2 separate regions of the Homo sapiens genome follow, and region 2 is linked to region 1. A link means that fine-mapping ties the variant in region 1 to the expression of a gene that starts in the linked region. Tissue or cell type: whole blood. Region 1 holds a variant in brackets; the other region holds the start of a gene. All regions are shown on one strand. Distances are from middle to middle.

Region 1 (5,665 bases):
AATTGCTTTCTTATTCCTCTCACTGGCCAATAAAGACAAGCAGGGACATAGGAGCTAATCTATGCAGTGGCAACATCAAGGAATTCCAGCCCACATGGCATCCCTTTTTTTGTTAAGTATTAACCACTATCAAATATCTATTTCTCTCCACCCTCCCAAATATACTCCCTTTTGTATCATGTATGTGTAGTATTCTGAAGGAACAAAGAACACAGCCAAGGTATGATCAACTAACCACCTGCAAGAAAAGAAGCTGAGACTTACTTAACTGCACTTCTCAACATGACCTAGTTTTATGACTATTTCCATGTAACTGCTTTCCCTGCATCGTGAGTAGCACCACAGGGCAGGAAAAAGAAAGTATCAAAAAGGATTCAGCATGTCAATCAATCAAAGTGACAGTAGCAAAGATCAAGGGGAAGATGCCCCACAGTGCTGGTCTTCTAGGTTTAAGCCACTTCAAGGCCCAGTGAGTTGCGACACATCCATGTCAGGCCCAGGTGGAAGGGGCTAGCTCTAAAGGGGAACTCTGCAATCCTGGGAGCCCAGATCATGGCCGTTCACAAAAGGTAAAAATTCACATTAATTAAAAAAGGTGACAAGTCTCATCCCTCAATTCAGTCTCCTCCACTGCCCCCTTTTTCTTACCAACTTGCCAAAAGGCCAAAGCCAAGCTTAAGCCCAGTGAGGCCAGCCTGGGTGGCCCCTTGAACAGAGCCAGCAGTTAGTTGTGTGGGGAGGGCTCCTGACACGGGGGCAGGGGAAGGAGCCACTTACCTTAAATCTGTCAACAGCCACTGAGGCTTCTGAGAGGGACTTTACTGAAAACGGTGTTACTTTCAAAGCAAAAGTCATGGAATTGAAGACTGTCACCACTGTGAAAGCCTGAAAATAGGAGAAGAGAAGAAACTGTGCCTAATGATGCTATGCAACTGAAGTAACCTGACACCATGAATTTCCTCTCAGGCGCTAGGAAGGCTGCAACTTCACGGTCAGCTGTTATTACAAGTCAATTACATTTTTTTTTTTTTGAGACGGAGTCTCGCTCTGTCGCCCAGGCTGGAGTGCAGTGACACGATCTTGGCTCACTGCAACTTCCACCTCCCAGGTTCAAGCAATTCTCCTGCCTCAGCCTCCCGAGTAGCTGGGATTACAGGCATGCACCACTATGCCCAGCTAATTTTTGTATTTTTAGTAGAGACAGGGTTTCACCATGTTGGCCAGGCTGGTCTCAAACTTCTGACCTCAAGTGATCCGCCCGCCTCGGCCTCCCAAAGTGCTGGGATTACAGGCGTGAGCCACCATGCCTGGCCACATTTTTTTTTAAGTAGAGTTTTTGAGACCTTCAATTAAAATTGTCAGTAAATATGAACCACAGGATGATCTGTAATTTCAGAATTAAACTCAAACTTATGTTGACTAAAAACAACTCATACACTATTTGTGCATAAGGGCTGGCTCCCCACTCTTCTGCTTCTCAGCTTAATCCCATGAATGAAAAAATACCTACTAATTCTTGGGGGAACCTCCAGGTCCAGTAAGGAGAGGACCACAGCATCATCTCCATATGTGGTATTTTTTTTTTGTTTGTTTGTTTGTTTTGTTTTGAGATGGAGTCTTGCTCTGTCCCCCAGGCTGGAGTGCAATGGCATGATCTTGGCTCACTGTAACCTCCACCACCTGGGTTCAAGTGATTTTCCTGCCTCAGCCTCCAGCAAATGTGGTATTTCTAAAATGTTCCCCATCCCTGAGGGTTCCCTGACCTGTGCTGCTGTCAGATCGAAGCCCAGGGTCATATGAACAGAGAAGGTCACCACGCTGGCAATCACCACCACAATGGGAGCCACACCCACAGTGATGCTCTGGAAGTACCCAGCTTTTTCCAATATCCGACGCTCCTCCTCGCGGATTTCTATGAATAAAAAGCAAGCCAATTTCAAAGCAAGTTAAAAGAAGCCTAGGGATGTTGTTCCTCCACCTCCAAACAAGACTCTGTAGGTCTCCAGCCACCCTTCAACACCTATGACTATCAACTCTACCACTAAAGCTGGTATAAAAGGCTGAGGTTTGAAATGGATCAAGTGACAGGAATGAATCTAACAGAAAGCAGTCACTATGTATGAACTCAATCATCATCTTCTATGATACCTTTTTCTGATTCTTCTTGTAAATTTCTTAGGTTGAGAAGGAATGAACACATTAATTGTATCTATAATTGGCAGTTGTGTTTGCTTACCTGGTTGTTGTTGACTTTTTGCCTAAGGAATTAATAGGAAAGACAACACAATGGCACTGGAGAATTAAAAAGGGAGGGACTAAGAGGCCAGGTGCGGTGGCTCATGCCTATAATCCCAGTACTTTGGGAGGCCCAAAGCAGGGGGAATCACCTGAGGTCAGGTGTTCGAGACCAGCCTGGCCAACACGGCAAAACCCCGTCCCTGCTAAAAATACAAAAATTAGCCGGGTGTGGTAGTACACGCCTATGATCCCAGCTACTTGGGAGGCTGAGGCCGGAGAATTGCCTGAACCTGGGAGGTGGAAGTTGCAGTGCACCGAGATTGCACCGCTGTATTCCAGACTGGGTGACAAAGCCAGGCCTTATCTCAAAAAAAAAAAAAAAAGGGGCAGTGGGGAGGGAACTAACATTTCCCAGAGTGCCTGCTGTATGTTGGCAGTGGGATAGAAGCTTCCATATAAAAATGCAGTAATGACAACCGGAAGAAGATAGGTGAAATACAATTTCTATAGGCAGAATGATTTTTCTTAAATATTTGCAAAATCAACCCCCATATTAGCAAAGCAACCATAGTGTACTGAAGACCGTGGAGCAGGAAGCAGAACAATAAGATACTTTTTTTTCAGACGAGGTCTCGCTCTGTTGCTCAGGCTGGAGTGCAGTGGCACAATCACGGCTCACCGCAGCCTCAACCTCCATGGCTCAAGTGATCCTCCCATCTTAGCCTCCCAAGTAGCTGGGACCACAGATGTGCACTACCATGCCCAGTTATGTTTTATTTTTTGTAGAGAGGAGGTCTCAGTACGTTGTCCAGGCTGGTCTTGAACTCCTGGGCTCTAGTGATCCTGTCTCTCCTTCCAAAGC[G/A]TGGAGACTAAAGGCATGAGCCACCTCGCCCGGCCAATACTTTTTTTTTTTTTAAGACGGGAGTCTCACTCTGTTGCCGAGGCTGGAGTGCAGTGGTGTGATCTCAGCTCACTGCAACCTCTGCCTCCTGGGTTCAAGTGATCCTCCTGCCTCGGCCTCTTGAGTAGCTAGGATTACAGGCTGTGCCACCACGCCTAGCTAATTTTTGTATTTTTAGTAGAGACGGGGTTTTGCCATTTTGGCCAGGCTGCTCTTGAACTCCTGACCTTAGGTGATCTACTCGCCTAGGCCTCCCAAAGTGCTGGGATTACAGGCATGTACCACTGTACCTGGCAAATACTTAATTCTTCTAAGAGGGTATACACTGACCTTAAAGGTATTACCACTGCCTAAGGCATTGGGAACTATCTTCACAGCTAGCTTGTAAGTCACATAAAAACACTGAACTCCTTACTTGAACATGTATTATACACCTTGGCCATGTCTATAATGAGTAAGAACACTCTTTTCAAATTAATACATACAGGTAAAGATAACCAGTCAGGGGCTGATGGATGAGGGAAATTTCAGAAAAAAGATCATAAAACTACAGAATCAGAGAGCCAGAAGGGACCAGTGGCAGCCATCCTGCCATCAACCTGCTGGCAGATGTCCATTCAGAATCCATTTGTTCCACTCTAGTAGAAACAAACTCACTGCTTAACAAGGCAGCCCCGTCCACTGCTGGGCACCTCTTGAGTGCTCATCTCCTCTGGATGCTTCTTAGCTTAACAGCCCTCATAAATCAAATGTAGATTCCAGAATTGGACATCATGTTCCTGAAGGTTACTCAATGAAAGGAAAACAACAGCTGCCTTGCTCTGAACACTGTTTTGTTTTTTTTTTTTTTTTTTGAGACAGTCTCGCTGCGACACCCAGGCTGGAGTGTAATGGTGTGATCTCAGCTCACTGCAACCTCCGCCTCTTGGGTTCAAGCGATTCTCCTGTCTCTGCCTCACGAATAGCTGGGATTACAGGCATGCACCACCACACCCAGCTTATTTTTGTATTTTTAGTACAGACGGGGTTTCACTATATTGGCCAGGCTGGTCTTGAACTCCTGAACTCAGGTGATCCACGTAACTCAGCCTCCCAAACTGCTGGGATTACAGGCGTGAGCCACTGGCGCCTGGCCTGAACACTGTATTTCTACTCCAACTATAATGCATTGACTGTTTCACAGCACTGGACTCAGCTCCTGATGAGGTTATGGTCCACCAACAGCCTCATCTCTTTTATTTAAATTAAGTATCTATGTGTTTGTTTTTAATTATCTACTACTTAAATTTCACCTGTTTCAAGGCACACTGGTTCAATTTGTGTTGAGATCTTTCTGAATGCCCCATCTGTGCCATTTCTCCTAGCTTTGTGGGCACTTACACGTTTGACAGAGCTAGGACCAGCATCCAGCCATCCTGACTCCCAGTTTACCTCAAGGGCCACAAACTATTTCCCGTGAAACCACAGAGTAGAGTGGGCAAAGGTGATGCTCTCAGTAGTAATTTGATATTGTCTTCTGTGAAAGCCTCATGACCAGGCTGGAAAATCATGGGCAGGATGAGAATATACACAGGGGGCTTCGAAACTGGATTATTCCTAACTAGCTGTGTTTTAACTGGGAAAAATCAACATTTTCCCAGGTCTCAATTTCCTCATCAGTGAGATGAGGTTATGGGTTCAAACCTCTAAGATCCCTTTTGAACACAAAGATTCTATGATATTATGTCCTACGATACTAGACACTAGTCCTAGTACGTAATGTGCTCAGAAAGCAAAGTGTGTGAATTATAAGACCCAAAGAATCCAAGGTCCTTCTACCACATGCACATACAAAATCTTTAAACTCACTTTGAACACTCTGAGAAAATGCTTTGACCCAGGCATACATTTTGATAAATTTAATGTAAGTAAGAACTTCATTCATCTTCTGGACACGTTCATCCGTGGCGGCCACGCATTTTCTCCTGAAATATGCTGTGAGCCGTGATGCAAACATCTGAAAGGAAAAGCGATGCCACGCCAAATTAAAGCTCATTCAAACTTGAGAACTACCTAATCTGCTTAAGGTCATTCTCAATAAAATGAGCATATAATCCTGCTTGCTAGGATGGGCCAAATGTTATGTAATCGTACTGTCTTTAATAAAAGTGACCTATTGAATTGTAATAAAACATTACTGAATTCTTATCTCTTTATAAGGCAATGAAGACAAGAAAGTATTTATTCTCAATAGTGACCACAGAGACTGAGTGCTTCCAAAGGGGAGGCAGGAGGGCCCTATCACTTAGCACCAACTCCAACGCAGTGACTCAAACACTCCTATGTCAAGTGGGACAGGGTTCACCAGCTGACCTTCTCATTCAGACTCTCTTTCATGCAAGTGACACCTTACCTCCTCTCAAGTCAAAATTCTGTCCCTATAGAGCAAGCACTATCGAGCTCTAGATTGAACCTGCTTTGAGGAAATTTCCAATCAGAGCTGTGAGACCTCAGCAATGCCTACTATAACCCAATGGAAGTAACTCA
Region 2 (5,325 bases), 39 kb after region 1:
CGTGTCGCCTTCTGGATTCCATAAATCCCTGGCTATCGCTGTGACTTAAAACTACTACTTCTGCAGCACAAAATTCTAACCATTATAATGCAATTTTTAAAGTGTCAGATAAAAAGAGAACACTTACTAATCCTCTGAATAAAAAGGACTAAATCTCCTATGCAAAGACAGGTTTCCAGTCCAAAGAAAGCTTGATTTCTTGCCTTTCAGAATTCTGGTTCAAGTACCCTAAGTTGATATAGCTGTTACTTATCTTTAAAAAAAAAAAAAAAGTCACCTTGTCCAATGACAAACTACACCATAAAGAACAGCGGCTCACCAAGCCAGAGTGCAGCAATCACGTCATTGAGACCTCATTAAGGCTAAACTATAAACAGACCTGGCATCTGCCAGTGTCCCCAGTGTTGAGCTGTAGCTGTAGATCAGAGTAACCTTCTTACGGGAATCACGAAATTCTAACCTTCCCCTTCAAGGGTTCCCTAGCTTAGCTGATTATCTGGAAGAGGAAAAGATTAGTACTACCTTTTTAAAAGGTGGGGGTTGGGGCGGTGAGCAGTTTGAAACAGAGGAGGTCACTGGAACTCATCCACAATATGAAATGCCACATCAAGAAGAACACGAACATAATCTTAATTATCTAAGCACCCATGATAACCAAAGATTCTTTCAACCACTTTTATTTCAAAGGATGAAGTAGAATCAGTGGAGCACAGGAGCAGAGAGAGGCAGGGACAAAACGACTTCCCTGTTATGACACAAATAATGACTGTTTTGTGCCTACAGTGACTGCTGTGGTAGACACTGCTAAACTATCCTAAGGGACTAAGTTATTCTATGTATGAAGGGTGTGGGGAACAGTGTTCCATTATCTCTAACACACTCATCTCTACTTTCCTGGAAAAAGAGGCACAATCAGGAGAGCAGGCAGGCCCAAAGTAGGCACAAAGTTACTGTCTGTGGCCTTGAACATAAGGACACCATCGTCTGTGTATCTGGAACATAAAAGAGGGCACCCCACGTGGAGGCCGGCGAAGAGCTGGGAATCCTGACAGGTTTGGAAAGAAACAAAGCCCCAGTCTGAAGCAAGCAAGCAAGCAAGGATGGATCCCCAGGCCAGCCATTTTACTGATACTATTTATATTTCCCTATCTTCTCGTGTCCTCCTTTAAAGTTGTTGGAATATCTTTTTTAAATGCTCACTTGCCTCAGCTATCAAGAGAGGAAGAAAGAGAAGGGATTTTTGTTTGTAAAAAACAAACCTGTTGTCCAGACATGTACAAGGGTAGAAGCAGAATAATCAACGTGGGAGAACCCCAAAGAAGTGCCCAATAGGGTTGAGGCCACTTAGTCAGCTGCCCTTTTTTACCAAGATTCTCTTTCCACTGATAAAAGTGTAGACACTCTCCCTGCACAATGATACTGATTCAACTGCATGGCAGGAGGAGAGTTGCACGGGATTACCAGACTGGTGTGTGCAAGCTGCAGTCATCCCAACACTCATGAGTAGGTTTCCATCACCTCCAGGCCCTCAAGCTGCACGAGGAAGACACCACGCTAAAGGGATACGTATTTACCACACCCACTGTAATCCACTTGTTGCGTCTCCAAGCAGCCTCACCTTTCATACACGCTGCGGACCACAGTAAAACCTAGCCATCTCCTCCTCCAAGACCTCCTGAAACTTTCCCCGTCGTTCCTGTGCCCACCTGCCTCCAGCCTCTCCGTCTGTGCAGAAACCAAATGGCCCCTGTGTGATAAACACAAAGCCACCCGCGGCTCTGTGTGGCAGAAGCGAAAAGAGCACTGGATGACCGTGGAGAGATCTGGGCTGCGTTCCCGGCACAGCCACGGCTTTGCTGCGCGTGCTTATGTCACGTACCTCCATTTACCCGCTTGCAAAAACGAAGGGGATGACTTACTTCGAAGGTCGCTGGCGGCTCCGCTGCGGGTTGAGCAGGGTGCCCCGAGCCACCCGCTGCACAGCCTCCCAGGTGGGCGTTTCTCTCAGACCCGCTTCGCCTGGGATGCCCGGGCCCTAGGGCGTTCCCACAGCCCGCTCCGGCCTGCCCAGGCGAGCGCGACCCACACCCACGGCCCGCGGGCGCAGCGCCCCCTGGCGGCCGCGGCCAGGGACGTAGCCCGCGTCCCTGCCCGCTCATCCCGATCCTACCTGCCTGTCTTCCAGCACACGACCCCGTCACCAGACCCCGGGCTCACAGGCCTAGGAGGCGGCGGCAGGAGACCAGGGGGAGGCCATACGCCGTTCCCCAAGTCTCCAGTGTCCCCCGAACTGCTCGCAGCCCTGGCCACATCCCGCCACGCCCCGAGGAAATGCAAAGGGGTGATCCCCGTGACAACCGAGCTGGAGGGCAGGGGTGCGGCAGCAGCCATCACCTACCTGCGCCCCTGCTCCAGGACAACCGCGCCAGCCGCTCAACCACGCTCCCGAGCATGAGCCCTGCAGCAAAACAAGCCTTTATAGCGGCATCGGCCGCCACACCGCGCAAGCGCGCTGCACAAAGCATTCCCAAGGCTGAAGGGAACTGTAGTCCTCCTTCCGAGTGCCCAGGGCTGCGGACGCGGCGAAGGACTACATTTCCCAGAAGCGCCGGTGACATCCCGGGGGCGGTGCGGGCTGCCCCTCTTCCCACCGAGCTCCCGGCTCTGTTCCATCCTTCCCCGTGCCTCTGCGAGACTGTCTGGAATCTTCTCAGGGGTCGTGTTCCCTGGGGGAGGCAGCCGGGAGGCTTAACCGTGGCCCTGTGTTCGCACACAGTGCTGTTCGTAGGCAGAGCAGTCCCACCCTGCGTGGCCGTGTAGCTGCCAGAAAAGATCGTGAAGGTCATCGTAGCCCGCGTCTAACCCGTTGAGAGTCGTCAGGCCGGCCAGCCCCAGTTCTTATCTGTTGTGGCAGATACGATTGCTTGCTCATGGTTCGACCCTGCAGTCTGCGCAGATACCGCCTTTCTCACTTTAACACCAACTGCCCATCAATGTCTCGCTGCCTGGTCTCTAGATAATAAAATGCCAGGATCACAGTCTTAGAAGTGGCAAGAGCCTTAGAAATGTTATGCTAACTCATCTTCTTCTTTTTATAAATGAAACTGAAGCTCCCAGAAAGATTGATCCCTTTATTTCTCTGTTTCATCGGTACCTTCAGCATCATTAAATAAAAGCCACTGTTGAGTTCTTCCCTACCTTGTATCCGATGCTTTACATACCATTCTTGTTTCCTTTAATCTCCATTACAGCCCTATGAGTAGGTATTATGAGTTTTTTTTTTTTTTTAAGGAGTCTGGCTCTGTTGCCCAGGCTGGAGTGCAATGGCGCGATCTCGGCTCACTGCAGCGTCCGCCTTCCGGGTTCAAGCAGTTCTCCTTGCCTCAGCCTCCCGAGTAGCTGGGATTACAGGCGTCCGCCACCACGCCCGGCTAATTTTCGTATTTTTTAAGTAGAGACAGGGTTTCGCCATATTGGCCAGGCTGGTCTCGAACTCCCGACCTCAGGTAATCCGCCCGCCTCGGCTTCCCAAAGTGCTGGGATTACAGGCGCGAGCCACCTCACCCCGCCGTATTTTTTTTTAATTCAAAGATTAAAAAAGAAGAAGAAGAAGAGGAAGAGGAAGAAGGAGAAGGTAAAGTGACTTGTCCATCTTTATAACAGCTAGCTAGTTAGCTAGTGTGAAGACACTACTGTATCGTAAAGCAGCATATTCTTGCGCACGGATTGATAGACCAATGCAATAGAATAAAGAGCCCCCAAACAGACTGGTGCATCCATGTAACTTGATCTGTGACAGAAAACCTTACGAATCCGTGGGGAAAGCAAGAAGAGTCAGTAAATAGTACTGGAACAATTGGTTATACATATGAAAAAACAATCAGGGATTACCGCTTCATACCACACAGAAAAAACCCATTTCAGGTAGATCAAACGCTTAAATGTGAAAGGGAAAACTTAAAAACTTTTAGAAGAAGATAGGAAATATCTTTATGAACTTGGGAGTAGGAAAGAACTTTTTAAACAAGAAACAAAGAATAAAGGAAGAAAGATTGATAATTTTTGCCATATTAAAAGATGGCATAAATTGAAAAGATAAACCACAAGTTATAACTGACAAAGTTTTTGAATAATAAATATTCAAAATAATTTCTAAGTTCAGTAAGAAACGGCAGATAACCCAATAGGAAAATAGGTAAATGACATGAACAGACAGCTCACAGAATAGGAAACTTGAGCAGCCACTCAAATATGAAAAGACACCCAATCTCATTCATAATCAGGGAAATTGATTTTTTTTTTTTTTTTTTTGAGACAGAGTCTTTCTCTGTCCCTCAGGTTGGAGTGCAGTGGTGCCACCTCAGCTCACTGCAACCTCCACCTCCAGAGTTCAAGTAATTCTCCTGCCTCAGCCTCTGGAGTAGCTGGGACTACAGACACCGGCCACCGCACCCAGCTGATTTTTGTATTTTTCGTAGAGATGGGGTTTCACCATATTGGCCAGGCTGGTCTTGAGCTCCTGACCTTGTGATCCATCCACCTAGGCCCCCCAAAGTGCTGGGATTACAGGCGTGAGCCAACACGCCTGGCCTGGAAATGTAAATTAAAATAGTAATGAGATACCACCTCACCAAAGATTCTAGTACCTTCCAACAATGCCTCAAACACTGTAACACCCAAAACTGCAGATCTGATATCATCATATTTTTTAAAAAGCTTCTAAATCCCGCTGAAATACTTCATATATGTTGATTATAGTTTGTTTTTTATTAAAAAAGAATAGATGAACACCAGACAGCCTTGGTGGCAGGCTTCAATACACTGTAGTACTGTCTTGGTCTGTCCAAGTATAGTCTGAGTGAAAGAATTATACTTACAAAATTACCCCCTCAAAATGTGTTTGTGTTGTGAACTGTTTAGAGGGGCGATACTTCCCAACCCTCAGGCAAGGGGGCTAGAGAATCTATGTTGCAGTGTAGAATTGTGTGTCTTTTCTTTTCTTTCTTTTCTTTTTTTTAGATCTCGGCTCACTGTAACCTCCACCTCCAGGGTTCAAGTGATTCTGATTCTCCTGCCTTAGCCTCCAGAGCAGCTGGGATCACAGGCATGTCCCACCACACCTGGCTAATTTTTGTATTTTTAGTAAAGACGGGGTTTCACCATATTGTCCAGGCTGGTCTCGAACTCCTGAGCTCAAGTGATCGGCCCACCTCAGCCTCCCAAAGTGCTGGGATTACAGGAGTGAGCTACCGCGCCCGGCCAGAATTGTGGGTATTTCTAAATAATATTTATGTTGTGTAATGTACTAAACATATTCATTAAATA

What was found. PIP is the estimated chance that this variant, and not a neighbour inherited with it, causes the effect.
Region 2: it holds the start of ABCC5, and the variant in region 1 is fine-mapped to the expression of ABCC5 in whole blood (INTERVAL, PIP above 0.99).

What each region holds. Positions count from the first base shown.
Region 1 is chr3:183,976,740-183,982,404 of GRCh38, forward strand. It overlaps ABCC5 (ATP binding cassette subfamily C member 5), which reads right to left. Exons shown (of 30, transcript NM_005688.4): 8 at 4,988-5,135; 9 at 1,764-1,912; 10 at 778-885. Among named protein-coding and RNA genes, the nearest start is that of ABCC5-AS1, 27 kb to the right of the region's middle. The variant G/A (reference allele first, on the strand shown) is at 3,101.
Region 2 is chr3:184,015,432-184,020,756 of GRCh38, forward strand. It overlaps ABCC5 (ATP binding cassette subfamily C member 5), which reads right to left and starts at 2,453. Exons shown (of 30, transcript NM_005688.4): 1 at 2,399-2,453. RefSeq lists a silencer at 2,021-2,190 and an enhancer at 2,671-2,850.